Homo sapiens: one gene and its partners. The protein of the gene in region 4 binds, or shares a complex with, the protein of the main gene of each other region. Each region holds a gene or a part of one and is shown on either strand. Other genes may lie near its edges. The genes, in order: DNAJB13, DYDC1, LRRC23 and ROPN1L.

The links.
Region 1: ROPN1L (region 4) and DNAJB13 share a complex: the UniProt entries of both Homo sapiens proteins name them as parts of the axonemal radial spoke complex.
Region 2: ROPN1L (region 4) and DYDC1 share a complex: the UniProt entries of both Homo sapiens proteins name them as parts of the axonemal radial spoke complex.
Region 3: ROPN1L (region 4) and LRRC23 share a complex: the UniProt entries of both Homo sapiens proteins name them as parts of the axonemal radial spoke complex.

What each region holds. Positions count from the first base shown.
Region 1 is NC_000011.10:73,946,713-73,954,036, forward strand, and holds the start of DNAJB13 (dnaJ homolog subfamily B member 13), read left to right. Parts: upstream 1-4,313; 5' UTR 4,314-4,357; coding exon 4,358-4,425; intron 4,426-4,462; exon of another isoform or gene 4,463-4,525; intron 4,526-5,695; exon of another isoform or gene 5,696-5,964; intron 5,965-7,324. UniProt on the Homo sapiens protein: Functions as part of axonemal radial spoke complexes that play an important part in the motility of sperm and cilia.
Region 2 is NC_000010.11:80,353,745-80,360,912, reverse strand, and holds the start of DYDC1 (DPY30 domain-containing protein 1), read left to right. Parts: upstream 1-4,157; 5' UTR 4,158-4,201; exon of another isoform or gene 4,202-4,653; intron 4,654-6,429; exon of another isoform or gene 6,430-6,552; intron 6,553-7,168. UniProt on the Homo sapiens protein: Functions as part of axonemal radial spoke complexes that play an important part in the motility of sperm and cilia. Plays a crucial role during acrosome biogenesis.
Region 3 is NC_000012.12:6,900,353-6,907,830, forward strand, and holds the start of LRRC23 (leucine-rich repeat-containing protein 23), read left to right. Parts: upstream 1-4,469; 5' UTR 4,470-4,723; intron 4,724-5,232; 5' UTR 5,233-5,281; coding exon 5,282-5,407; intron 5,408-5,492; coding exon 5,493-5,602; intron 5,603-6,056; coding exon 6,057-6,310; intron 6,311-6,962; coding exon 6,963-7,093; intron 7,094-7,478. UniProt on the Homo sapiens protein: Essential for sperm motility and male fertility. Plays an important role in the proper assembly of the third radial spoke (RS3) head and the bridge structure between RS2 and RS3 in the sperm flagella.
Region 4 is NC_000005.10:10,437,190-10,444,895, forward strand, and holds the start of ROPN1L (ropporin-1-like protein), read left to right. Parts: upstream 1-4,689; 5' UTR 4,690-4,978; coding exon 4,979-5,109; intron 5,110-7,706. UniProt on the Homo sapiens protein: Functions as part of axonemal radial spoke complexes that play an important part in the motility of sperm and cilia. Important for male fertility.

The DNA of each region.
Region 1 (7,324 bases), on a different chromosome or scaffold from region 4:
TGGTTCTTCCAAGCGTCCAGCTTACCTGCCGAGCTTCTTTCAGTCATCCTCTGGTGTCCTCTGACAATTGTCCTCTGCTTCCGCATGCTCTAGCGTTCCTTCACAGGGGTTTTCGTTGCCCCACATTGGGTGCCAGAAATGTTGGAGTGATCAGACCCAACACCAGGCTGTGGGGGCTACAAAGTCTGGCAGAGTCGAAGGAATGAGACAAGACAAGAATGCATAAAGTGGGTCCAGGGGGCCAACACCAGTATGGCAGCTGCGAAGGCCCTGAGCTCTGGGAGCCCACGCTCTTTATTGGTGATCAAACAGAAGCAGGTGGTGAGGACGTGAGGACATGGGGTTAGAAAGGAAGCGGTGCATCAAGCGTTTGACCTATAGCTGTGGCAGTTTAGCATTTTCTTTTAAGCATATGGAGTATGCTCTGCTACTCGAGATAATGGAGAACGTGTTTTTCTATCTCAAGATAACAATCAATTTACAAACCTGGGACAGCAAGAAGCAAGGAGCCAGCAAGTCTGGACACATTCCAGAGGCCACAAGGGGTTTTATTCCCTGAGCCCTGGATTGCATCCAAGCCACGAGGGGTTTTATGCCCTGGGCTTAGATTGTGGTGTGGCAGGGCAGCCTTCCACCCTTTGGCACAGAGCTTGGTGTTCCAAAGGCCACGAGGGGTTTTAGACCCTGGACCCAGGACATGTTCCAAGACTCTCTTACGTTATGTCAGACAAGCAAGACTTGCCTCAGCTCTTCTAGCAACACATTGCCCCAGTGATAGACCAATGGACAGTAGTTCCAGACACCAACCCATGCATATGTGGAAATTTCATATCTAACACAGCAGTCAGTACAGATCGGTGGGAAGACAATGGACAATTAAATAAATGATCTGAGCAGTTGGATATCTTTCAGAAAAGATACTATCTTGCTCCATATACAAAAAAATAAACTCTAGGTGTGTTAAATATTTAAATGTGAAATGGACTTTCGGAAGATCATATAGGTGAAGATCTTTATGCCCTCACATAAGGAAATATTTCTTAAACTAGACACACACAAAACGTGTAACCAGAAAGGAAAAGATTGATACATTTGACTTTTAAAAAGGTGAAAAAAGCTTCAAGTTGAAGAAAGGATTCGTATTTCATATTATCAACAAAGAGTTTGTTTTCAAAAAACATAAAAAGCCACTAGTCAGTTTTTTTTTTTTTTTTTTTTTTTGAGACGGAGTTTCGTTCTTGTTGCCCAGGCTGGAGTGAAGTGGCACAATCTCTGCTCACCGCAACCTCTGCCTCCCAGGTTCAAGCTATTCTTCTGCCTCAGCCTCCCAAGTAGCTGGGATTACAGGCATGCGCCACCATGTCCAGCTAATTTTGTATTTTTAGTAGAGATGGGGTTTCTCCATGTTGGTCAGGCTGGTCTTGTACTCCTGACCTCAGGTGATCCATCCACCTCGGCCTCCCCAAGTGCTGGGATTACAGGCATGAGCCACTATGCCCGGCCTGTCAGTTTGTAAAAAGGATAGTCAAATAGAAAAAAATGGGCAAAAACATAAATAGGTGTTTCACAATGAGGAAAAACAAATGGCCAATAAGTATGAAAAGATACTCAACCAAGAAATGCAAATTAAAATCCACAATGAGATGCCACTTTATGCCTACTATATTGGCAAACGTTTTAAAACTTGACATCAAGAGTTGGTGAGGGCCAGGAGTGTTGGCTCATGTCCATAATCCCAGCACTTTGGGAAGCTGAGATGGAAGGATCACTTGAGCCCATGAGTTCAAGACCTGTTTGCACAATATGGCAAGACCTCGTCTCTACAAAAAATTTAAAAATTAGCCTGATGTGGTGGTGTGTGCCTGGGTTTCCAGCTACTTGCGAGGCTGAGGCAGGAGGATTGCTTAAGCCCAGGAAGTCGAGGCTGCAGGAGGTTGAGCCATGATCGCACCACTGCACTCCAGCCTGGGCAATAGAGGGAGACCCTGTCTTAAAAAAAAAAAAGAGTTGGTAAGGATATGAAGCAAAAGAAACTGATACACTGCTGTTGCCAGCGTAAATTAGAAAACCACACCAGAAAACTTTGGCATTGCCTTGCAAAGTGGGCGCATATACCCAAATGTTCATCAACAGAGAGTACTATACAGCCTGTGACAATAAGTCACACACACAAATACCTACCATTTGTATAAATGATACCATTTATATAAAGTTCAAAAATATGAAAAGGTAAATATGTTGCTGTGGATATTTGCAGTGTGGCACTGGAGCTGGCTTGTACTGGCTTGGGAAGAACTGGCAAATGCCACAAAACAGCACACCACTGGGTACAGGCATATGGAGTAAAGCTCTAAAGAAAAGCAAGAGAATTACAAACAGGTAGGGAGGGGCACATCGGGGCAATATTCCTTCAACAAGGAATGTTCTAATGCTGCTCTTTTTCTTCCTAAGAAGAAAAAACAAATAGAAGTTAGCTGGGTTGAGGCGAGGGTCTGTGGTGGGTGGGGTGGGAGGTTCTGAGCAGAGGTAGCAGCAGAGGTGAATGAGGAGAGGGGATGGCTGGTTTGGGCAGTGGCAGGCACTGCAGTCCATTCTGACAAGCAGTGGGTGCGTGTAGGGCAGTGGTGAGAGCTCAGGTGGAAAGGGAGGCACCAGATCACAGAGGGCCTGTGTGCCATGGTAAGCAGTTTGGAGTTCACTCGAAGTAATGAGGAGTGTGGGCTTTGCAGAACAGAGACAAGGCAGGCAGGCCCGCGAGGAAGTTGTTGTGGTCTTGCTGAAAGATGAATCCAGAGCTGGGCCCTGATTATGAGGAGGAAGAGCAGAGGAGCTGGGCTTGAGAGGTTGTCTAGGAAGCAGAATGGACTGAGCTTGGTGACCAGTTGGATTTGGGATGTGCATGGAAAACAGGGCTCTGCTGTACTCAGAGAGGTGGAGCATAACTCCCTCACTGTAAGGGTGGGCCGCACAGTGACTGCCTTCCAAAGAGTGCAATACAGCAAGTGGGGAAGGAGGGCTGGCGCGGTGGCTCACGCCTGTAATCCCAACACTTTGGGAGGCTGAGGTGGGTGGATCACTTGAGGTCAGGAGTTTGAGACCAGCCTGGCCAACATGGTGAAACCCCGTCTCTAGTAAAAATAACAAAAATTAGCCGGGCATGGTGGCACATGCCTGTAATCTCAGCTACTTGGGAGGCTGAGGCAGGAGAATCGCTGGAACCCGGGAGGCAGAGGTTGCAGTGAGCTGAAATTGTGCCACTGCACTCCAGCCTGGGCGATGGAGTGAGACTCCATCTCAAAAAACAAAAACAAACAAACAAAAAGAAAAACACCAAACAAATTCCAATTGCAGGACATTCTACAAAACACCTGACCATTATTACTTAAACTGTCAAGGTCATCAAAAACATGGAAAGTCTGAGAAACTGTCACAGTCAGGAGGCACCAGAGGAGATGCAACAGCTAAGTGTAACGTGGCATCCTGGATGGGGTCCGGAACAGAAATAAGATATTAGGTTAAAACAACTAGTAAATCTGAATAAAATGTGGATTTTAGTTAATAATAATGTATCAATATTGGTCATTATTTGTGACAAATGTACCATACTAATGTAAGATGTTAATAATAGGGGAATGTGAATGCAGTGGCTCACACCTGTAATCCCAGCACTTTGGGAGGCCAAGCCGAGCCCAAGAGTTCAAGACCAGTCTGGGCAACATGGTGAAACCCCATCTCTACAAAACATACAAAAATTAGCCAGGCATGGTAGTGCACGCCTGTGTCTCAGCTACTTGGAAGGCTGAGGTGGAAGAATCCCTTGAGCCTGGGAGGTTGAGACTGCAGTGAGGTGTGATCCTGCCACTGCCCACCAGCCTGGGTGACAGAGTGAAGACCCTGTCTCAAAAACATGATAATGATAATAATAATAATAAAATAGGAGAATGTGGATGTGAGGTATATGGGAACTCTCTGTACTGTCTTCTCAACTTTTCTAAACTCTAAAACTGTTCTAAAATAAATGTATTTTTAAAAAATTAGCCAAATGCATTTCTTCTAAAACCTTTTTATTAAAACTAATTACTGCTCTCTTTAAAAACAAAAACAAAATAAAACAGAGCCCTGTGAGTCTTCAATTTCCGAGTTGAGTGACCTTTCACAGGGTCGCAGAATCAGCCCCAGCTCTCCCCCAGTCCTTTCACTGACTCCTCTCTGTGGCAGAGCTGAAATTTGTTTAGGGAAGTGGGACTACAACTCCCAGAGTGCACCTGTGCGGTTGTCAGGAGCAACCAAGGAAGCCAACTAACAGCCTTGCTAGAGTCTGAGGACTATCCAGGGCCTGACTGCCAGCTAGCCAGCCATGGGCCAGGATTATTACTCTGTGCTCGGGATCACTCGCAATTCAGAGGATGCCCAGATCAAGCAGGCGTAAGTTGGGGTGGGAGCCAGGCCTTAGGGGTGTGCTGGGGCAGGCCCTGCCCTCTTCTCTTCCAAAACGAGCTTTCCTGCACAGCTTAGCGCAGACAAGGTAAACCTTGTTCCTCCTTTCACTTCTTGCATACCTGTATCCTGGCTTTGGTCTGGGTCAGGGCCCAGGTTGGAAATTTGAACTCTTTAGTTCCTCAATCTGCTCCCAACCCATCTCCCTTTATGCTCCATGCCCTATATCCTCTCCTGGGTGCCTTGCTTTTCCCAGCAATGAAGTGGGGACAAAGGAGCCATTTGAACTTTATCTTGAATATTATGGAGAACCAGAGGCTTGTGAACAAGGGAGTGGCCAGGCCAGATGGATGTTTTAAATTCAATTCTGGCCATGATGGAGGTTTTCAGCATTGACTAAACTACATTCCTGAATACTTCCATCGGATCTTAAGGACGTTCTGGCTCGTTCCTAAGAAAGCCTACAACAGGAGTCAGTACATTTTTCTGAAAACATGTTTTTGTTTTTTGTTTTGAGACGGAGTCTTGGTCTTGTTGCCCAGGCTGGAGTGCAATGGCGTGATCTCGGCTCACCGCAACCTCCACCTCCTGGGTTCAAGCGATTCTTCTGCCTCAGCTTCCCAAGTAGCTGGGATTACAGGCATGCACCACCATGCCCAGCTAATTTTGTATTTTTAGTAGAGATGGGGTTTCTCCTTTTTGGTCAGGCTGGTCTCAAATTCCCGACCTCTGGTGATCCACCCGCCTCAGCCTTCCCAAGTGCTGGGATTATAGGTGTGAGTCACCGCACCTGGCCAAAAACATGTTTTTTTTTTTAACAAATATTTATTGAGCGTCTACCACAAGGGTTGAGAGGGTACTTCACTCCTGCTGCAGTGGTAGCAGCTGGAGATAAATGTCGGAATCCGACATCGACACTCCCTTACCTCATGCAGCTAGATTTTGTTGCTGAATAGATGTTGAATAAGTCACCACAACTGTGATGAGTGTTACAGAAGAGGAAGTATGGGGGGCTGTGGAAGTTATCTTGGAAGGAGAGAGACCCTTTAGGAGGCTGTTCGTGGTAATCAAGGCAAAAGATGAGGCCAGAGAAAGGGGAGGGAATGGACTTGGTAATTAAGTGGATCACTGGAGGGTGAAGAAAAGAGGAGTCCAGGATAACTCAATCAATTAAGTTAGGCAGTGACAATAGGTGTATGTTTTGAGTGTGTAGGTGCTGTTCTGAGAACTTTCCATCACTGTTTAACCCTCACAACAGCCCTGAGAATTAAGTGCCATTATTATCCCACAAGTGCACTAGTAAATGGTGGAGCCAGTGTTCAGATATCAGGCCTCCCAGAGTTGCCAGTCATGGGCCTATTCCTGGGCCAGGTCCTGTAGGGGATCAGTGGCATAAGTGGAGAGTCTGCGGTGTTGGAGAAAAAAGACACAAACTCATGAAAGGATCTGAGAACAATTCAGGACAGTGTATGATGTCACCCACTCTTCGGAGCATCTCATTGACCAGAAGGACCCATCCAGGGAAAGGTAATCAGGAGGAAGGGCAGTGGGCGTGCAGAAAGATAAGCACAGCTTAAGCACTGGAAAGGGCTGGATCAGAATCCAGATTCACTTACCTGCTAGCTGCGTGACCTGGGCAAATTACTTAACCTCTTTGAGCCGAAGTTTTCCCATGTCTAAAAATCATCATCATAATAAAGGTTGCTGTGAGATTGAAATAGGATTAGATGAGATAATGCATGTGTCCAGCAATCATTTGCATGTGAAACCATGTCATATAAAGAGTGATTAAGGCCTGGCATGGTGTTTCATGCCTGTAATCTGAGCACTTTAGGAGGCCAAAGCAGGAGGATCCCTTGGGCCCAGGAGTTTGAGAGGGCAGCCTGGGCATCATAGGGAGACCCTGTCTCTACAGAAAATTTAAAAATTAGCTGGGCATGATGGCACACACCTGTAGTCCCAGCTACTTGGGAGGCTGAGGTGGGAGGATTGCTTGAGCCCAGAAGGTAGAGGCTGCATTGAGCTATGATTGCACCACTGCACTCCAGTCTGGGCAACAGAGCAACACCTGTCTCAAAAAAATAAAAATGGCTGGGCCGGGCACCGTGGCTCATGCCTGTAATCCCAGCACTTTGGGAGGCCGAGGTAGGCGGATCACGAGGTCAGGAGATCGAGACTGTAGCAGGACGAGCCGCAGAAAAAACCTCTCAGACACCGAGTTGTAGAAGGAAGAGCTTTATTCAGCTGGGAGCATCGGCCAGCTACTGCCTTAAAATCCGAGCTCCCCGAGTGTACAATTTCTGTCCCTTTTAAGGGCTCACAACACTAAAGATTTCACATGAAAGGGTCGTGATTGATTTGAGCAAACAAGGGGTACGTGACGGGTTTCATGCACTGGTAGTCAGAGAGAAACAGAACAGGGCAGGGAGTTTCACAATGTTCTTCTATACAATGTCTGGAATCTATGAATAACATCGGTTTCTAAATTATGAGTTGATTTTTAACTACTGGGTTTAGGCCAGGCAGGCCCAGGCCTGGTTTCAGGCCTGGCGCTGGGCTGCCTGTCTTTGGTTTTACTTCCTTGTTGCTTTTTTTTAAAACAGGTACTGAGTATAAAACAATATGAGATGGTCGCTCTCTTCCCTCAAGACCATCCTGGCTAACACACTGAAACCCCGTCTCTACTAAAAAATACAAAAAATTAGCCGGGCACCTGTAGTCCCAGCTACTCGGGAGGCTGAGGCAGGAGAATGGCGTGAACCCGGGAGGTGGAGCTTACAGTGAGCGAGATTGCGCCACTGCACTCCAGCCTGGGCGACAGAGCGAGACTCTGTCTCAAAAATAATAATAAAATAATAATAATAATAATAATAATAATAATAATAAT
Region 2 (7,168 bases), on a different chromosome or scaffold from region 4:
CAGTCCCAGCTACTTGGAGGGGTTGGGGGCAGGGCTGAGGTGGGAGGATCACTTGAGCCCAGGAGGTTGTGGCTGCAATGCGTTGAGATCTCACCACTGCACTCCAACCTGGGTGACAGAGCGAGACCCTGTCTAAAAAAAAAAAAAAAGAAAGAAAGAAAAGAAGAAGAAAGAATTCTATAAAGGGCATTGTTGGGAAAATTGGTTGAACTGAATGTGAAATGTAGATTATGTGACATAATTTATCCAAGTTAAATTTCTTAATTTTGAATAATGGAAATATGAGTAAGAGAATGTCCTTGTTCTAGGGCTGAATAATGGCTCCCAAATGTGTCTATGTCTGAATACCTGGAAACTATGAATATGTCACCTTAAATGGCAAAAGAGACTTTGTAACTGTGATTAAATTAAGGATCTTGAGATAGGGGGATTATCCTGGATTATCTGAGTAGGAACAATGTAATCACAGGTGTCACTATAAGAGGGACACAGTACGGTCAGACAGGGAAGGTGATGACAGAGCCAAGGGAGAAAAAGCGATGTGATTCAGGGCCTTGAGCCAAGGGTATCCTCTAGAAGCTGGAAAAGACAAGAAAATGGATTCTCCCCAGAGCCTCCTGAGGAACCTGCCCTGCTGACACTTTGGTTTTAGCTCTATAAGATTCATTTTGGACTTCTGACCCCAAGACCTGTAAGGGAATTAAAAAAAAATTGAGTGGGGTAGTGATGGAGGGTGGGGACAGAGGTGGGTGGTGTCTCCTGCCAATCTGTGTGGCCCACTTGAACCAATGCATTTGGATAAACAAACTTCTACACCCCTCTTACTCAAAGCTAGTCTGACGACAGATGACCAGCAGCATTCCATCACCTGGGTGAGAGGTGACAGCGTGCTGGCAGCCCTCTCTTGCTCTTGGCACCTCCTCGGCCTTGGTGCCCACTCTGGCCATGCTTGAGGAGCCCTTCAGCCCGCCGCTGCACTGTGGGAGCCCCTCTGGGCTGGCCAAGGCCGGAGCCGGCTCTGCTTGCAGGGAGGTGTGGAGGGAGAGGCGCGGGCGGGAAATGGGGCCGCGTGTGGCACTCGCAGGCCAGCGCAAGTTCCGGGTGGGCGCGGGCTTGGTGGGCCCCGCACTCGGATCAGCCGGCCAGCACTGCAGGCCCCAGGCAGTGAGGAGCTTAGCACTGGGCCAGCAGCTGCAGAGGGTGTGCTGGGTCCCCCAGCAGTGCCGGCCTGCCAGCACTTTGCTCGAATTCTTGCCGGGCCTCTACTGCCTCCCCACGGGGCTCCGGACATGCAGCCCGCCATGCCCGAGCCTCCCCCGCACCGTGGGCTCCTGTGCTGTCGGAGCCTCCCTGATGAGCGCCACCCACTGCTCCGCGGTGCCCGGTCCCATCGACCGCCCAAGGGCTGAGGAGTGCGGGCACACTACGTGGGACTGGCAGGCAGCTCCGCCTGCAGCCCTGATGCGGGATCCACTAGGTGAAGCCATTTGGGCTCCTGAGTCTAGTGGAGACTTGGAGAATCTTTATGTCTAGCTAAGGGATTGTAAATACACCAATCAGCATTCTGTGTCTAGCTCAAGGTTTGTAAATGTACCAATCAGCACCCCGTGTCTAGCTCAAGGTTTGTAAATGCACCAATCAGTGCTCTGTGTCTAGCTAATCTAGTGGGGACTTGGAGAACTTTTGTGTCTAGCTCAAGGATTGTAAACACACCAATCAGCACCCTGTCAAAATGGACCAATCAGCTCTCTGTAAAACAGAGCAATCAGCTCTCTGTAAAATGAACCAATCAGCAGGATGTGGGTAGGGCCGGATAAGGGAATAAAAGCAGGCTGCCTGAGCCAGCAGCTGCAACCTGCTCTGGGTTCCCTTCCACACTGGAAGCTTTGTTCTTTTGCTCTTTGTAGTAAATCTTGCTGCTGCTCATTGTTTGGGTCTGCACTGCCTTTATGAGCTGTAACACTCACTGCAAAGGTCTGCAGCTTCACTTCTGAAGGGAGACCAGCAACCCACCAGAAGGAAGAAACTCTGAACACATCCGAACATCAAAAGGAACGAACTCTGGACACGCCGCCTTTAAGAACTGTAATACTCACTGTGAGGGTCCACGGCTTCATTCTAGAACTCAGTGAGACCAAGAACCCACCAATTCTGGACACATTGGGACTTGTTGAGATGCAGAATCTCAGGTCCCACCACAGATTCAGAACCTGCATGTTAATAAAATCTCCAAGCGACCTGTAGTTACCAATCTACTTTGCCTGGATCACTGTAGAACTGTCCTTCCCCGAAGGCAGAATCACCAACTCTGCATTCTCTAGTCAGGGGGTGGCTGCCACACTGGTTACATGTGGCAAGCCGTATTGGCATACCTCCCCCTACTCTAAATTGCCCATTTTCAACAATGATCTGAAGGAAATGTGTTTGCCCAACAGTCGCTAAAATATGGTACAAAGACAGTAGAGCCAGCATAGAGCCATAATCTGAGGGCTGGAGGGGAAGGAGTCAAGGGGATGCCTTTTATTTTTTATTTTTAAGAGAGAGCCTTGGTCTGTCGCCCAGGCTGGAGTGCAGTGGCACAATCTCGTCTTACTGCAATCTCTGCCTCCTTGGTTCAAGCAATTCCGCTGTCTCAGCCTCCTGAGGAGCTGGGATTACAGGTGTGCGCCACCACACCTGGCTAATTTTTGTATTTTTAGTAGAGATGGGGTTTCTCCATGTTGGCCAGGCTGGTTTTGAATTCCTCACCTCAGGTGATCCGCCCACCTCCGCCTCCCAAAGTGCTAGGATTACAGGCGGTGAGCCACCGCGCCTGGCCAAGGGGATGCCTTTTAAAGCCCACTCAGACCAACTTAGGGTACACTCACCAATGGGGGGAGAGGCTATTTTTCAGTGTTTCCCAGAGCTCCTCTGAGGGTCTGCTTACACAGTTCCTGGACTTGCACTCAGTAGGCAAGGTGATAAGAATAGGGGTTGTCTTTGTTTACTGTATACCGCCCACGCTTGGCACACTGGGAGCTCTGTAAATATTTCTTGACTTATTCATTGAGAGAGTTCTGCCACCTGCCCTCATGCTTCCCTTTGATTTTTCCACGCCCAATCTGGCATTTACTAGCTCAACTAACATCTATTAAGGCCTCTCTTGCCTGGCACTGCCCCGCCCATAAGCTGAAAGAGAGCACAGGAAAGGCTAGCACATGCACAGACGACTAGGCCAGGGAAGACTGCAAGGGTTTGGGCCTGGTGGAGACTGGACGGCTTCCCGGTGGTGGGGCACCCGAATTGGTTCTGAAAGGAACCAAGCAGAGGTCACCAGCAAGAGCAAAGGTGCAGAGTTGTGAAACTGCCAAGCTATTAGCAGCTTGCAGTGACGGTCTTCCAGGGACTCTGGAAGGTCTTCCACCCTTTTCCGATTGGCTGCCCTTCCTGGTTCCTCCTCAAAGCCCGCCACCTCTTTGTCTCTCCCAGAGCATGCCGGGCTGCCAGTCAGGGTCCCTTGCTCTTTTGTGTGCCCCTACTCCTCCAGGTTTCTGTGTAGCAAGTCTCCTCGGCTCACCCACCCCGCGCGCCTCCACATACGCCTTTCCTCGACCCCTCACGAGCACACGCCCGTCCCGCGTGCCCGCTCCTCTCTGCCTCCCGCCCCGATCCTACGCTCCCCCTCCTCCCTGGACCCCGCCCCCTGGAGCGCGCCCGCTTCTCTCTGCCACGCTCCCCTTCTTTCATTCCCTCTCCTCTCTGCCCGTTGCCCCCTCGTGCGCGCTCTCCCTCCTGCACACCGCCTCATCTCTGCCGCAGGCCCGACTCCTGAACGCCCCCTCCTCTCTGGCCCCCTCCCCTGGCGCGCGCCCCCTTCCGCACGACCCCTTCTCTCTGCCGGGCGCCCCGCGCCTGCACGCCCCCTCCTCTCTGCCGCGCCCCCTCTACTCTGCGGCGGGCTCCTACTCCTGCACGCCCCCTCCACTCTGCCGCGCCCCCTCTACTCTGCCGCGCCCCCTCTACTCTGCCGCCTGCTCCTACTCCTGCACGCCCTCTCCTCTCTGCTGCGCGTTCCCCCTTCGCTGCCCACCGCGTGCCCTCTGCTCACCTATCCGCGCGCCCCTTCCGCTTTGCGGCGCCTACACTGGCTCCTGAGGCGCGAGCTCTCGTTGCCTGGCAACGGGACGCCGCTCCTGGGTGGCGAGCAGGCGCGTGTGTAGGGGTGAGCGCACCGGAAAGGCCCGAACTGTTTTTGGGATTTGTTCCCCTAGCTTCGCTGGGTCCGGCGGGCAGAGGCGGTTCTGACCGTTGGGCCTTGGGCGTCGAGCAGGACTCACCTGAGGCGGAGAGAGGCCGCTTCGCGCCTGGGGCTCCCGAAAGCGGCCAGCTGTCCTCCTGCTCCCCCTGAGCGGGGAGCGCTGCGTCTCCTGCGGGCTGCGGGAGACCCTTCCAGACTCCCGGGTGGGAAAACCACACTGAGCGCCCCGGGAGGTTGCCAGATACAATACTGTATCTGGCACCCCTGCCCGGGTGCCCCCGCCCAGTTGGCTGGCTGGCTGGCTAGCTGTCTCCCAGGTGTGGGTAAGGAATCTCCTTCCATCTCTGTGGCACCTTCTTCACGCTGGAGGCAGCTGTTTCTGTGGGAAAGGGCTTTCTTATGTTGAGCCAAGATGCCTATTGGTGTATGTGAAAAATAACATTGCTTACCACAGGAGAGATGGGTATTATCCTCGTTTCACAGACAGGAACATGCTAAGGGAGTTGGCAGGCCTTGCCTGGGTCCCACTGATATGCCCAGAAATCCGAGACAGAGCCTCCCCTGACCTGGCCCCGCTGGTAGGCCAGAAGTTTTCTCTTTAGGGATAATGGTCCCCTTCCTCCCTTCCCACATTTTATCCTTCTGGAGCAGCAACAGGAGTCTGTGCACCTTTTTTTTTTTTTTTTTTTAACTTCACTTCAAATGACTTTGAGATGTCTGTGTAGCGTTTTGGTCTTTCAGGTATATCCTACTGAAGAAATACAGTGAAGATACTGTGTTCCAAAGTCAGTTGTAATAATTCTTTTCTCTGTATGGTTGAGACACCAATATCAACCTCATTTGGAATTAGGTTCATTTGTGCCAGTTTGTTTTCCGTTTTTAGAGTTTTTATGACTATGTTTACATATACACACATACACATTCCTTTCCCCACTGCTGTTGCTAATACAAAAGATGACAGACCATATACAATTTCAGCACCTCGTTTTCTTTATTCTGTGTCTTAGAGATCACTCTCTAGTTTCTTCATTCTCTTGTACATCTGCATAATAATCCATTGTGTTGCTCTTATTAATCCCCAATTTGATGAACATTTAGATGGTGCTTCAGTGTGACTATTGTAAATAATGCTGCAAATAACTGTGTGCATATGCCATTTCATATTTTTGCAACTATATCTTTGAGATAGGATCCAAGAAGCAAGATTGATGAGTCAAAGGGTGAATGCATATGTGATTTTCTAGATGTTGTCAAATTCTCCTCCATAGGAGTTATACCATTTTGCCCTCCCACCACTGTCATATGGCATATGCACATAGTTATGGCATAAAATTTCAGAGACACTGACATCCTGGGGTTCATCCATAGAATAAAAATTGGGGGTTATGGACGGACCCCAGGATGTCACTGTCTCTGAAATTTTATGCAAAATGCTAGATGCATTTGTCCAGGGACAAGTTTAGACACAGTGGCATTCTATCCCCTGTAATTGCCATGCTCATTCCTATATCAGGGCCTTTCCTCATACCTAGAAGACTCTTCTCTTCTTTGTCGTGTTAATTTTACTGTTTTTTTTTTTCAGTAAATGTAAGCTTAGCTCAAATGTCACCCCCAAAGAAGCTTTTTTTTTACTTTCCTGACTTGATCAGCTACTCCTCTTGTCTGGTCTCATAGTACTTATTTTAACTGCAATTTCATATTTATTGATTTAAATATTTATCTTCCTTTCTCATCTATAAGCTCCATGAAGGCAGAGACTGTTTTTGTTTTAGTTTGCGCTGCTGTAGCAAATTACCAACACTGGGTGGCTTAAAAACAATACACATTTATTTCTCACCATTCTGGAGGCTGGGAAGTCTAAAATCAAGGCATTGGCATTTCTGGTGTCTGGTGAGGACCCTCTGGCTGGTGTGCAGGTGGCTGTCTTCTAGTTTTATTCTCAGATGGCAGAGAGTGAGAGCACGCTCTCCCATCTCTTTTTATAAGGGCATTAATCCCATGCATGACGGCTCCACACTAATGATCTAATCACTTCCCAAAGGCTCCTAATACCATCACATTGGGAGTTAGGATTTCAACATATGGATTTTTGGGGGACACAGATATTCAATTCACAATAGTTTTGTATTCCCAGTACCTATCATGGTGCCTGACCTATAATAGGTATTCTTTTTTTTTTTTTTTTTTTTGAGACGAAGTTTCACTCTTGTTGCCCAGGCTGGAGTGCAATGGCACAATCTCAGCTCACTGCAACCTCTGCCTCCCGGGTTCAAGTGATTCTCCTGCCTCAGCCTTCCAAGTAGCTGGGATTACAGGTATGTGCCACCACGCCCAGATAATTTTGTATTTTTAGTAGAGACAGCATTTCACTATTGTGGCCAGGCTGGTCTCGAACTCCTGACCTCAGGTGATCCACCCACCTCAGCCTCCCAAAGTGCTAGGATTACAGGTGTGAGCCACTGTGCCCGGCAAATATTCATTATACATTTGTTTAACAATTGATTACATTTCATCAGATTCTCAGGAAAAAATATATATATATATATTTTTTTTTATATATGAGACAGAGTCTCACTCTGTCGCCCAGGCTGGAGTGCAGTGGCACGATCTTGGCTCACTGCAAGCTCCGCCTCCCAGGTTCACCCCATTCTCCTGCCTCAGCCTCCCAAGTAGCTGGGACTACAGGCGCCCGCCACCACGCCCAGCTAATTTGTTTGTATTTTCAGTAGAGACTGGGTTTCACATAGTTTCCAAAAGGGCTCCAAGGAAGTCACTACAACTAACATGGTTTCAAAATCCTGAAGGACTCTCAAGTCCAAGAGTCAGAAAAGAGATATTATCATTATTGATTTCAAGTTTACTTGATGCCAAGTAATGTGGGTCTCATGTAATCCTCACAACATACCTGAAAAATGGGTATCATCATCCCAG
Region 3 (7,478 bases), on a different chromosome or scaffold from region 4:
GAGCCTTATTGGGCTAATCGCCAATTTGGGTGTTCACCTGCCCTGCATCAGTTGTGCCTGTGAAAAACTACTGCACTCCAGCTGTGACCGGTTGAGGGTAATTGTCCAGGTTCTTGGTGTTTTGCACAAAGAATTCGACAAAACACACAAACAAAGCAAGGCAATGAAAGCAGAGATTTTTTTTGTTTGTTTTTTTAATTACCGTGCCCGCGAGACGGAGTCTTGCTGTGTCGCCCAGGCTGGAGTGCAGTGGCACGATCTCGGCTCCTGGGTTCAAGCAATTCTCCTGCCTCAGCCTCCTGAGTAGCTGGGATTACAGGCTTGCACCACCACGCCCCGCTAATTTTTGTATTCTTAGTAGAGATGGGGTTTCACCATGTTGGCCAGGCTGATCTCCAACTCTTGACCTCTTGATCCACCAAAAGCAGAGATTTATTTTAAAGGAAAGTACAGTCCACAGAGTGGGAGCAAGCTCCAGCAAGTGGCTCAAGAGCATTGGTGACAGAATTTTCTGGGGTTTAAATACAATCTAGAGGTTTCCCATTGGTTCACCCTATGCAAATGAAGTAGTGGCCGACTGCCAGTCTAATTGTGGGAGGGGACCAATCAAAATGAAGAGAGTAGGCCTGCTATCAGTCTGACTGGTTGTGAGAGGGGACCAATCAGACGTACTTTCATTTTTCAAATGCCATACAGAGAAAGGAGGGTTTGAAAAGGGAGTACTCTCTGATATTCAGTCAGCATGATTCGGCCTTAGATTCCCTGCCTCCGGACCCTATTCTCCTGCCTCTCAGCCTGGACAATGTAGTGAGACTCTGTCTCTAGAAAAACACAAGAAAGTTCCGGGCGCGGTGGCTCACGCCTGTAATCCCAGCACTTTGGGAGGCCGAGGAGGGCAGATCACGAGGTCAGGAGATCGAGACGATCCTGGCTAACACAGTGAAACCCCGTCTCTACTAAAAATACAAAAAATTAGCCAGGTGTGGTGGTGGGCGCCTGTAGTCCCAGCTACTCTGGAGGCTGAGGCAGGAGAATGGCGTGAACCCGGGAGGTAGAGCTTGCAGTGAGCCGAGATCACGCCACTGCACTCCAGCCTGGGAGAGAGAGCCAGACTCCATCTCAAAAAAAAAAAAAACAACACCAAAAAAAAAAAAAAAAAAAGGAAAAACGCAAGAAAGAAAGGAAAGTGGTAGTATATCCACATAATGGAAGACTAGACAACTATGAGAAAAAGAGGTAGATTTATGCTTAGTGACATGAAAGAAGCCCAAGACATATTAGAATTGAATAATTAGAAGAAAAAAACCCTAAACTAATCTAAAAATCTTTTTTTCTTTTTTTTTGAGACCGAGTCTCACTCTGTTGCCCAGGCTGGAGTGCAGTGGTGCGATGTCAGCACACTGCAATCTCCGCCTCCCAGGTTCAAGCGATTCTCCTGCCTCCGCCTCCGGAGTAGCTGGGATAACAAACGCCCGCCACCACGCCCGGCGAATTTTTGTATTTTCAGTAGAGACAGGGTTTCGCCATGTTGGCCAGGCTGGTGTTAAACTCCTGACCTCAGGTGATCCGCCCACCTTGGCCTCCCAGAGTGCTGAGATGATAGGTGTGAGCCAAAGCGCCTGGCTTTTTTTTTTTTTTAGACAGAGTCTCGATCTGTTGCCCAGGCTGGAGTGCAGTAGCGTGATCTCGGCTCACTGCAACCTCTGCCTCCCGGGTTCAAGTGATTCTCGTGTCTCAGCCTCCCAAGTAGCTGAAACTACAGGCACAAGCCACAACGCCTGGCTAATTTTTTTTCTTTTTTTGAGACGGAGTTTCACTCTTGTTGCCCAGGCTGGAGTGCAGTGGCGCGATCTCAGCTCACTGCAACCTAGGCCTCCTGTATTAAAGCGATTCTGCTGTCTCAGCCTCCCGAGTAGCTGGGATTACAGGTGCGAGCCACCACCCCAGCTAATTTTTTGTATGTAGAGACGGGGTTTCACCATATTGGCCAGACTGGTCTCAAACTCCTGACCTCAGGTGATCCACCCGCCTAGGCCTCCCAAAATGCTGGGATTACAGGCGTGAGCCACCACGCCCAGCCTAAATATTACTTTTATAATTGAAAGAGACTCTATCTAGACCAGCCGATGGGGGAAAAATATCAAGGATGTTGTGGAGTATCTAGCTCTCATTACACAGTGTAACTTCAGTCCTTGCCAACTAAACACGAAATAAAACCTTCAATAGCTCCCCACAGCTTTCAGGATAAAGTCCAGATCCTTCAGTGTGATCCAAGTCTGTTTACTGCTTCTACCATATTCCAACCCCCGACTGCACCTACTGTTCCAGCCAGCAGAACCACCTGCTTTCTTTGCACAGGCATTGAGCTCTTTCTTCTCCAAGCATTACCACAGGTGATTCCTGCCTCTGAAATCTCTGCCCCGAATATATGATATCATGTATATGCATATACTATACAATGATCCCTAGCACTTAGTAAAAGCTCTATAAATGTTGGGTATGATTATTATAACATGTCTCATTATATTGAATTACTTGTGTACTTAATCTTGTCACTGAACTGTACACCTCTTGAAGATAAAAGATAAGGACTTCTGTGCTTTACTGTCCCGGAGCACAGGGACAGATTAAGTGCTTAACAAAAGCATGGCAGGGCGCAGTGGCTCATGCCTATAATCCCAGCACTTTGGAAGGCCGAGGCGGGCGGATTGCTTGAGCCCAGGAGTTTGAGACTAGCCTGGGCAACATAGCAAAACCTTGTCTCTACAAAAAATACAAAAAAATTAACTTGGCATGGTGGCGCACACCTGTAGTCCCAGGTACCCAGGAGGCTGAGACGGAAGGACTGCTTGAGCCCAGGAGGTGGACGTTGCAGTGAGCTATGATTGCTCCACCGCACTCCATCCTGGGCGACAGAGGGAAACTCTATTTCAAAACAAAAATAAAAACAAAATAACAAAAGTGTATGTTCAAGGACACCTTCCTAACCCTTACATCACAACTTTTCTTCCCATCTAATGTGTCTTCCTCTTTCTTCTTGGCCAAGGAAACTCATATCCATTTCTTTTGACTACATCAAACCACATGGATTTTTCCCTTCTCCACACTCCAACAATACAATAACTTTCATTTGTATAGCACATCTCACTCTTCAGAGTGTTCATATTTATTATTTCTTTTTCCTCACAGCAACCCCAGTACCAAGGACACAGGCCAGGGGTGGGGAGGAGCAGGAAAATGTTTACTAAGGGTCAACTAAGTGCAAGGCGATTTACCCACATTATCTCTTTTAATCCCTTAACAATCCTTACAGGTGGACGTTTTAATAATCCCCATTTCACGACTGTGGAAATTAGACCTCAGTAAGATTTCATAACCTGCTGAAGGACACACAGGTATTAAGTAGTAGAGATGGGTTTTGAAGCTGGTGTCTCTGACTTTAAAGTCCCTACTGGTTCCATGACACCAAGTAAACAGATTTGCCTATTAACCACATTCCTCCAAGCTGCCCTGGGCAGGAGGTAATATAATACTTCCTGATTTCTTGCCCACCACATCTTCCACCAGACCACTTTGCCGTTATATAAAGTCTGTGGGCACAATTTAACAATGAATCACATGCCATCTTACCTGGTTACCTCATTGTTTCATTTACATTAGATTCCACAACAAGATTGGTAACATCCCCCTTTCCCCAGGCAGGAATTGTGTCATCTTAACCTCCCTGAGCCTCAGTATCCTCTTCTTTCAAATGTCTATCTTACAGGACTGTTGCAGAGATTAAATATCAGTTGTAAAGATGTTTGACATAATGTCTCGCACAAACTCTCCAGAAATATTTATTGCATCTCAACATCTTTTTCATCTCCTTCAACATGTCAGACAGGCCTGAGTGCCTGGGTTTGGCTATGCCAGTTCCTGTTGATTACTGATATAACAACGTTGGATCAGGAGTATTTTAGTGGGCAGATGTTGAATTTTCTGCCTTCCACCCACTAAAAGGTTTGCATCAAACCAGTCCAGGATAACTCATACTGGATCCCTGTCAGTTGATATAGTTAAGCTAATTCTACAGATAACAAAGAGTCTTGGGTACGTTTAGCTAGCAAATGCAGATCTGCCAAGACTCCAACCCAGTTCTTAAGGTATCTGGGTCTGGACTCCTTCCGCTCCACCAAGCCACCTTCCAAAGGTCTACCTGAAAATAACTAATGAGCAGAAACTATAGGGGGAAGGGGAAAAGACCCCTTATCTTGGTGTTTCTTGCTTTTCCTCGCAGCCCCGCCCTTTTTGCTTCGAAGGACGAGTTTTTCCTGAATTCACAATACTTTTGCATTGAAGATGTCCGGTCCCTTTAAGGTCTTGGGTGACGTAATGACTAGCCCCGCCCCCTCTCTTCTCGCTTCTCAGCCCTGCCCACTTCTTTTTGTCCTCAGCCAATTAGCGGCCCAACGCCCCTTCCGCGCCTCATCCGGGTTCCCGGGACGGGAAAGTGGCGTGGTAACCAGGCAACTACTGATCAATCCCCTCCCCGGCTGATTTGCGCATCAGGTAGTCGCCGCTCTACTCTCAACGGTGGCGAGCTGCAGTTGCCAAGTGCCCCGTCCCCGTTGCCATAACAGCAGTACACAACCCCTCCTTCCCCTCGCCCGCTTGCTAAACAGTCCTTCCCTCTCGGGACCAAGGGCCTCTCCAGAACTGCTTCTGATTGAGCAGAAACAGGGTCTGAGCCCCTTTGCTAAGGCGAATTGAGTGGGAGGGTTGGAGACTGCGCTTTAGGCTGGTGTACCAGAGGGCCCAAGGAAATTGGCCCAGTGGGGAGGGAAAAGTAGAAGAAATGAATGGAGCAGGGATTACGGATGGCGCAATGGGAGCTGAGAGGAGAGGAGGAGGAATTGGTAGGGAAGATTGGAGAGCATGGCTTAAGGGGGAGGTGGGAAGAATGGGGGAGAGGGAAGCCCAGGAAATAGGGACACCCGGCTGCTGGAGGAGAGCTGGAGTCACTGTGAAGGACAGGAAAGGCCTGGGGGTGTGGGTGACATCCTGAAGGGAGGGGGTCCTCAGTGGAAAGTGTGAAGTGGGAGTTGAGAATCAAAATGAGATGTTCACAGGGATAAGGAAAGAAGCCTAGAGTTGGTGGGTCAGAAGTCATGGGGGTGATGGGAGTGGCACGTGTCAATGACGATGAAGGAGCTGAAGGCTGGCAGAAGCTGATGAGACCTTCTTTTTCAGGAGGAGGACTGAGCTTATCTGACTCCAGAGCTTTCAGGAGGGAAGAAAGATGTCAGATGAAGATGATCTAGAAGACTCTGAGCCAGACCAGGATGATTCTGAGAAAGAAGAGGACGAGAAGGAGACAGAGGAGGGGGAGGACTACAGAAAAGAGGGGGAAGAGTTCCCTGAGGAAGTGAGAGCCTGGACAAGGAGGGGTCCTAGGGCTGAAGGAGGGGGTTGGGCAGGGGAGAGACACCTTACTCCACTTCTACCTGCAGTGGCTGCCCACCCCCCTCACGGAGGACATGATGAAGGAAGGGCTTTCTCTGCTCTGTAAGACAGGCAATGGGCTGGCTCATGCTTATGTCAAGCTGGAGGTTAAAGAGAGGTGCGTTTTGGGGGGACCAGATGAGGACTGTGAGACTGTAGGGCCCCTATCTCCTTTCCCACTGTCATTCCTGGGTGTTCTGGTTGAGAGTTTGACTCTTCTCATGCCTAGTGGAAAGGGAAGGACAGAATTTACTTTTCAGGAGCTCTGAGACTTCTCCTATCAAAGCTGACCTGGGGAATTGGAGATTGAGAGTATATGGGGGGATTCCTGCTGGATTCCCTTATTTGTCTTTCAGAGTATGGGTTCTCTGTCCTTCACAGACACAGGTCTCTCTGCCCACTGTTAAGAACCCACCTACCTTCTCTTACCCTTCTTCTCCCCTACCATCTGTTGCCCATTCTTCTCCCCATTATAAGCCATCTCCATATTGCCTTCTGCTTTAGCAACTCTGCCAGTCCTCACTGGGTGCTTAACCCTAAACCTGGTTTCTTCTCCCTCTTCCATCTCCTAGGGACCTGACAGACATCTACTTGCTGCGCTCCTACATCCATCTGCGCTATGTGGATATTTCTGAGAACCACCTGACAGACCTGTCTCCACTCAACTACCTCACCCACCTGCTCTGGCTCAAGGCTGATGGCAATCGGCTGCGAAGTGCCCAGATGAATGAACTGCCCTACCTGCAGATTGCTAGTTTTGCTTATAACCAGATTACTGACACTGAAGGCATCTCTCATCCTCGTCTTGAAACCCTGAATCTCAAAGGTGGGTCTTTAGGATGGGCTACACAAGATTCTTTCCTTCCTAGCCTGAGGCCAACAGAAGTGGGCAGTATGGTCCTTGGCTAGGGCACATGGCAGTCTGCATTCATTCATTCATTCAGATACGCAATATGATTCATTATGACAGTTCTACATGCTAACCATATAGGATCCAATAAGACAAGGAACGTCCCTATTCTCATATAGCTTATATTCTAATTGGGAGAGACAAACAAGTAACAACAAACACAGTAAGTACATTCATGTAGCATGTTAAAAGGAGACAAGTGCCTTGGAAAAAATAGATCAGAGTAAGAGGAATGGGGGACACAGGTGGCAATGTCAAATAGATTGGTTAGGACAACCATCACTGAGAAGATGACATTTGAGCAAAGAATTGAAGAAGGAGAGGGAATTAGACATGTCAGCTGCTTCATTCACTCTTCAAAGGCTTAGGTGGATATGTCCATCAGGACCTTGGACTACCTACCACACCACTTGCCTCAGGGCTCCAGAGGTATTAAGTCTGGAGCTGGCCTTCCTCAGTATCTACCCTGCTTTGCGAATGGTAGGATGATTTAGAGGCTCCCCAAATTCAGGCTCTAATGCTGAGCATTTGGAGTGGCCCTTTGAGCTCTTGAAACCCTCCTCCCCAGGGAACAGCATCCACATGGTGACAGGTCTGGACCCCGAGAAGTTGATCAGCCTGCACACAGTGGAGCTTCGGGGGAACCAGCTGGAAAGCACCCTGGGAATCAATCTTCCTAAGCTGAAGAACCTCTACCTGGTAGCTCACTGGGTCAGAGGGTGGTGCAGGGAAGAGGGCACTGTCCTGGGGGTCAGGATGCCTGCTTTCTAGTAGGCTCAGCTACTAACTTCATCATTATGATAATAACTGGTATTATTATCAAGACCATAGTTGGTTCCAGATGCTGTGGAGATACACAGCCACCTAGCAGGGCTGATAATATATAATGTGTGGATAATACAGAGATAATTTACCTTGATACAGGTAGTAGCAAAATGGACCATAATTGAGGTACAAACATCAGTCTGTGGAAATGTTTTAGGAAAACCCTCCTCTCAGACTGGGTTTTTCTTCAGCTCTTACACTACCACCACAACAATCATCAACATACGACTTCCGGGACCAAAGGTGTGGGGGTTTCTCC
Region 4 (7,706 bases):
AGCTACTTATTTTCATTTTCAGGGTTGAGTACTCTAAGCTCTCTACTTACTGTGAGAAGTTTTCTACATTGTAAAATTAAAAGATTATATTTAAAATACTTCTTTAGGATGTTATTCAGCCATCAAAAAAAAACCCAACTAAAATGTCTTACCAGTAAAGTATTATTAAAAGCCTCATTTGTGGAGATTCGCTGACTTCCTTGGTTAAGCTGTCTTGTATTTACTTAATTTGTCCCCTCAACCAGGTGTTTTCTTTTCAGCCTGTTACTGTCCTGTGCCATTTTTAAAAATAGCCATCATGAGTAAGGGCTTCTTTAAAATAATCCCTGACAATATCTTTGGCATTAATACGACATAAAGACAAGACAGTATATGTATGTTTTCATTCCTGTTTTGTACGAGTGCCTCATTTTGTAGTCATGAAAGTAACATAGTACCTTAAATAAAAATGTAATGACTAATCTAAGGTCTAGGAATAACTATTGTAGAAGCTAAGTAGAACACTTAGTTTGGGGTGTCAATTTTCTATCAACGCAAACACCTTAGGGTACCCAGACCAATTTTATGTATATATATTCTGAAATGCTCCCTTTTTAATGTGGTCATTTGTTGCCTTCTAAGTTGAGAGGACAAAACTGAATAAAGTGAATGTTAATTGTAGTCTAGTTTTTTTGTTTGTTTTTGTGTTATTGCAAGATTGCTTTAAGATTGCAGAAATATGCATTATTAGCCAGCATAGATAATCCAGATGTTATAATAGGAAGGAAAAACAACTCCAGTTAAATGTGACTGTGGCGACTCCCTTTTATGTATACATTTAAATGCATAGTTGCAGAGGACACATCCCTCCCCTTCTGTCTCCCTAACTTGAACTGTAGACCGTCCTCACTGGGAAGAGTAAGGCCCCACATTTTGTGCAATAGCAAGCTACTGCCCACTTCTGCATGTCTGCTACGAGATCAGAAAGTCAGTTTCACTAAGGTTGTCTTTTAGCTGAATACTTAGAGTAAAACCAATCAAATCCATTGTACATACCTGACCATATGTCCCAGATAAAAAGGAAAGACTTGCGTGATGTTTTTTTCCTTCTGAGTGCCCTGAGGAGATCCTTTTGCTTCAGACTATTTCTAATTTTTCTTTGTTTATAGGTTCAGAATTTTTTCCATGATTGTTTTCCCCCAAACAAGTGCATTTTTAATTACTTTAAATGCAGGGGTGATAGAGGAAATGCTATTCGAACCATAGACATCTTTAATCTGTGAAGCTGAAATTTTTCAGCAAAGGAAATTGCATGGTCAAGTTCAGAAACTGGCCATTAATTTCCCCCTTCCGCTCCACAGTTCATAGCTACTCTTGTTGCAAACATGTAGTGATAAGGAGAACTAACGTATCAAGGGGCTGAGAGGGTAACGTTCCCCTCCTCCTCCATGTTTTTATTTTGGTGTCTGTTTTGTTTCTAGCACTGTATTTAGTACTGTAGTTGAATGAGGTATGATGTCTCCCTTCAAGGAACTCAGAATGGAACAGAAGCATGAGCAAAAGATTGTATTACAGAGGTATGAATAAAATGCCATGGGGAACACAGAGAAAGGTTCACCCGGGAGAGATGGCCTAGCCACTTCCTTAGTGACTGTTTGGTATATGTAGGTCCCCCTGCCATTACTCTTTCAGCCTTCTGCAATCTAGTTCTACTTAGTCACACACTTCTCTAAGACCACTCATACGTAAACACTACGTAGAGGCCCCTTTTTGCCTCATTTTACATTGTTTAGTTATCATTTTGAAACTTTTCTTCACATATGTAACAGTGCCGGAGTTTTTCTGCTTCTCTGTGTTTGTTCAGTAACTCTTCTTTAGGATACACCTAAAGATGAGAAGCTTCATACCCAGTACTCCTCTTCATTCACTCATATGTTTTTGGGATCAGTCCCTTCTGCTGGCTGTGCATTGGTCTAATGGAACAGAATAGAGTCCAGAAATAACCCAACATGTATGTGGACAACTGGTTTTTGACAGAGGTGCAAAGGTCTTGAAAAAATGATGCTGGAATAATTGGGCATCAGATGCAAAATTAAAAACAAATTGATCCATATCTTAACACTGGCAAAGATTAAAGTCCAAATGGATTATAGTTCCCCAAAACTGTATAATTTCTAGAAGACAACAAGGAAAACGTGTTCAGCCTTGGGTTAGGAAAAGATTTCTTAAATCCAACACCAAAAGCACAATCCATGAAGGAAAAATCGATAAATTGTACTTTATCAAAATTGAGAACTTCTCTTTGAAAGGTACCATAAGGAGAACAAAAAGACAAGCTGTAGAGTGGCAGAAAAATATTTGCAAAACATTTCTGATAAATGAGTTGCATCTAGATTACATAAAGAAGTCTCAAAACTGAACAAGTAAACCCATTGTTTACTTAATCGCTGTTTCTCCTGAGCTTGCTGCCTCTGCCCCTGCTCTCTCTCCTTTTCCATTTGTTTTCAACATTGAATCCAGAATGTTCTTCTTGAGATCCAAGTCAGATCACACCAACCCTCAGAACTCTCCAATAGACGACCATGGCACTCAAAAGTCCACAATAGCCTTCAATGCTGGGCAAAACATGAAGCACCCCTTTTCTCCCTTCTCTGACCCCATCACCTCTGTGTTCACCCTGCTCCTGCCGTCCTCCCTGCCTCCAAAACAGGTCAGGCCTTCGTGCCTTTGCACTTACTATTTGCAATACCCAAATGTTCTTCAGGCTCTTTAGCCTCTTCATTTCTTTCCTGAAGTGTCATTCTCACTGAGGCTTATCTAAAGCTGCAGCTACTGGGGCATTCCTGTCTCATCTCCCTGCTGTATTTTGTACTCCCGGCTCTCTTTTGTACTTTTAAACATACTATATGGTTTACCTTTGTTGTTTATATTTGCATGTTGTTTCCCACTTGAATGTAAGCTCCAAAGATTTTATTTTTTTAAACTGAATTATTACTGTATTCCCAGAACAATTCCCTGGCAAATATTTGGTACTCAATAGTAATGCTAAGTTAGTAAATAAATGATGAATTTAGAATCAAAATAATGTGTCTATGGCCAAAATAAAACCTGAAATCCCTGTCCTATTTCCCAGAGGTAACTGCTGTTAATAGTTTAGTTGTGTGCTTCCAGACATACCTTCACAGAATCATTTATCACAATAAAGGTGTCATACTATGCAGATTGTTTGACAAGATGCTTTTTTTCACTTTACACGGGCATCTTTTCATACCATTGTGTGGCCAGGCCATGATTTGTTTTCCAAAAGACATTTACCCAATTTATATGGTGAAGATTTTTGTCCATATTACTTTTTATAGTATTTCTGTAGGGTAAGTTCCCAGAAGTAATATTGCACGATCATCGAAAAATTTTAGTGTTACATTACTGCCCCATAAAGGTACTAATTAACATCCCTCTCAACAACATAGAAGATTCCTTTTTTTTTTTTTCTTTTTTTGGGTGGAGGGGGGCGGGGACAGAGTCTTACTCTGTCGCCCAGGCTGGAGTGCAGTGGTGCCATTTCTGCTCACGGCAACCTCCACCTCCCGGGCTCAAGCTATTCTCCTGCCTCAGCCTCCCAAGTAGCTGGGAATACAGGCACGCGCCACTACGCCCAGCCAATTTTTGTAGAGAAGGGGGTTTCACCATGTTAGCCAGGCTAGTCTCGAACTCCTGACCTTGTGATCAGTGCTGGGGTTACAGGCGTGACCCACCGCGCCCGGACGGATTTCTTGTTTTCATACTGTCATCAACTTTAAATACAAGTATTTTCAGTTTTTGCCAATGCTGTTAATTTAGAAATGTGTATGTATATATTGTCTGGTGGGTGTTTGGATGGAAACGATCAAAATCGGGCAACTTCCCCAGTTTCCTTGAAGGGAGTGCTTGCCATCGGCCCCTCTGGGAAGTAGCTCTCCGTAGTTCTCCATCTTCCTGTTTTGAGGAACGCAGGAGGAGGTGGATCTGGAGTCTCATCCATTCGGTGGCTGTTAACGGCAACTGCAGCAGCCAGCCAGGTCACCCCCTAAAGCAAAGTTAACCCCTTGCATGGTGCCTTGGTCAGCACCCACCAAATTCGAGGTTTCTCCTATCCTTCGACTCGAGGCTCTTTTGACAGATGTGATTTATTTCCTCCTAGAGCCAGTCACATTGGCTCAAGCAACCTATCGTAAGAAAACAAATACAATAGTGTTTTAGCTGGAAACTGCCCACTGTCTAAGCGGCTTTTTAAATTAAGAACTCAGGTTCACTACGGGATGGCTTAGGCCAGGGAACAGCATGTGCGAAGTTCGAAGCCCGAGAAGTTTGGAGGAGCGGCCCCAGGCGCAGGCGGGTCCCGCAGCGGGGCCCGTGCCGCCCAGGCGATCAGCCCCTTCACTTAACCCGCTTCCCTCCTAGCAGGCCCGAGTCCCCTAGCCTCAGCCTCACGCAGCCAGAGCAAGGGGAAGAGGGAGTCCTTCGTGAGTTCGCCGCTCACATTCGGCGGTGGGAAACCGATCCGAAGATGCTTTTGTAGGCGAAACGCTCAGCTCGCGCGGCTCTGAACCACCGGGGAGCAGCGGCTGCTGCTAGTCGGACTACGCCAGCACCTCCTTGTCCAGCCCGGGAGCAGCCCCGCCTCGCTCAGGGCCGCGTGCGCGTGCGCGGCTCCAGGGGCGGGGCCTGCTCGCGTCCCGGGTGCCTGGATACCGAGCGCGTCCGTAGTGGCGGCTGGCGCTAGGGAACTGCAGGGTCTAGGGTGTTGTCGGAGTGGCAGTTGGTCCGAATTTCTCCCGAAGCCCGCGGAGGAGCGGGTAAGAGCCCCGCGAATCCGGCCCCAACCTCGGGAACGGGATGGGAGGCGGCCCTGGCCGCAAGCCCCGCGCTGCTAGCGGGTCCACCGCGTCGTAGCCGACAGCCGCCCTTCTTCCTCGCAGCGCGCCGCGATTCACCAGCCTGGTCCCTTCTGCGGAGAGCGATGCCGCTTCCCGACACCATGTTCTGCGCTCAGCAGATCCACATTCCCCCGGAGCTGCCGGACATCCTGAAGCAATTCACCAAGGCTGCCATCCGCACCCAGCCGGCCGACGTGCTGCGGTGGTCCGCGGGGTAAGCGCCCTTGGCCCGGGGAGCTGTCCGGTCTACATGCCCAAGCCAGACGAGCCCAGAGAGCCCTCCTCCCGGACCAGGGGCCTTACGCGGCACTCAGCGTCCTTAAGAGTATCAGGCAAAACTTTCCCCTTAGCATTGGTGACATCTATACTTGAGTGTTTTATCTAGGAACCATTTCGATTTATCGACTATGAGACCCGAAATCATTGCAAAATGCTCACTTACCTACAACGTAATGGCAACTCAATTGTTTAAAAGTGTTTATGATGAAGATAGACTAAAACTTAACAAAGTAATTGCATTGGGCAAAAAAGTGTTTACATTATGTTAAAAAAATTACACGGTTGCAGTCACTTTGTGAAATGACTTTACAAAGAGGAATATTTTAGCTAAGTTCCTCATCTGCAGAGAGTCCTCTCAGAGCTATGTATACCCAGAGCTGGTTAAATTTATTAGAACCGGAACGACCGTGGTCATACTGAGGTCATCATCCCTAGAGTGCTCAGGGTAAACTGTCCAGCAAATGAAGCTTCACAGTTTATTTTTTGCCACAAACATTCCAACACTTGCCAGGAACAGACATTCATAATCTCAAAGTTACAAGTCAACAGATCTTAGAGGCATTAAAAGAAATCCTCTTGGTTTTACAGGAGAGCTCTTTGCCCCTTTTCAATAAACAGATGTAAAACAAAAACTCACTTTTATGATGACAAGAGTCAGCACAGGTGTAAATTTAATTTAAATATTTTAGTCATCAACATTTCAAATTTTGGCTGGGCTTGGTGGTTCATGCCTGTAATCCCAGCACTTTGGGAGGCCAAGCTGGGAGGATCACTTGAGCCCAAGAGTTTGAGACCAGCCTGGGTAACACAGCAAGACCCCATCTGTATTTTTTTTAATAAGAAAACTAATTTAAAAAGAAAAAAAACAGCCAAATTTTGCTGGCTTTAAACTCTATAACCAAAGTGAATTAGTTTCGTTTGGCTGCTGTAACAAATCACCACAAAACTTGACAGCTTAAAACACAGACATACATTTGGGCCGGGCGCGGTGGCTCACGCCTGTAATCCCAGCACTTTGGGAGGCCGAGGCGGGTGGATCATGAGGTCAGGAGATCGAGACCATCCTGGCTAACAAGGTGAAACCCCGTCTCTACTAAAAATACAAAAAATTAGCCGGGCGCGGTGGCGGGCGCCTGTAGTCCCAGCTACTCGGGAGGCTGAGGCAGGAGAATGGCGTGAACCCGGGAAGCGGAGCTTGCAGTGAGCCGAGATTGCGCCACTGCAGTCCGCAGTCCGGCCCGGGCGACAGAGCGAGACTCCGTCTCAAAAAAAAAAAAAACACAGACATACATTCTTGCAGTTCTGGAGGCCAGAAGTCCAAATTAGTTTCACTAGGCTAAAATCAAGGTGTTGACAGGGCTTTGCTCTTTCCAGTGGTTCTCAGGAAAACCCAGCTCGTTTCCTTGCCTTTTCTGGCTTCTAGAGCTGCATTTCTTGGACGCCTTGGCTCATGTCCCCTTCCTCCATTTTCAAGGCCAGCATCTTCAAATCTCCCTCTGCCTCCTTCTTCCAAGGACACTGGTGATTGCATTCAGTGGCCATCCAGATAGTCCAGGGCAGTTTTCCCACCCGAGATCCTTATCAGTCCACAAAATCCCTGTTACCATGTAAAGTAACATTCCCAGGTTCCTGGAACATGGACCTGGATACCTTTGGGGCTGTTATTTTACCCACCAACTGAGCTACTTGTCCATCCAGTGCTTGCCTTCTGAGAAATGCTTTTATCAATGGTTTCTGAAAGACTCTTTCAAAGTTCTTGCTAAAGAAATATAGCCTCTGGTTTTAACCATTATTCAAGCTTAAATAAAAGGATTTATAAGAGTTTGTGCTGTACAAAAAATTCCAAGATTTAGCAACATCTTCTTGGAACATTAAACTATATTTAGTAATACCTTAGAGATAGTTATGTTAAGCTTCACTTTGTTTATTTATTTATTTATTTTTGAGACGGAGTTTCACTCTTGTTGCCCAGGCTGGAGTGCAATGGCGAGATCTCGGCTCACGGCAACCTCTGCCTCCCGGGTTCAAGCGATTCTCCTGCCTCAGCCTCCCAAGTAACTGGGATTACAGGCACTTGCCACCACACCCGGCTAATTTTTGTATTTTTAGTAGAGATGGGGTTTCACCATGTTGGCCAGGCTAGTCTCGAACTCCTGACCTCAGGTGATCTATCCACTTGGGCCTCCCAAAGTGCTGGGATTACCAGTGTAAGCCACCGCACCTGGCCTAAACTTCACTTTAAGAGGCTTAATCAGGCTGGGCATGGTGGCTCACACCTGTAATCCCAGAGTTTGGGAGGCCAAGGCTGATGAATCACCTGAGGTCAGGAGTTCGAGACCAACCTGACCAACATGGTGAAACCCCATCTCTACTAAAAATACAAAAATTAGCTTGGTGTGGTGGCACGCATCTGTAGTCCCAGTTACATGGGAGGCTGAGGCAGGAGAATTGTTTGAAACCGGGAAGCAGAGGTTGCAGTGAGCCAAGATCGTGCCACTGCACTCCAGCCTGGATGATAGAGCAAGACTCCAT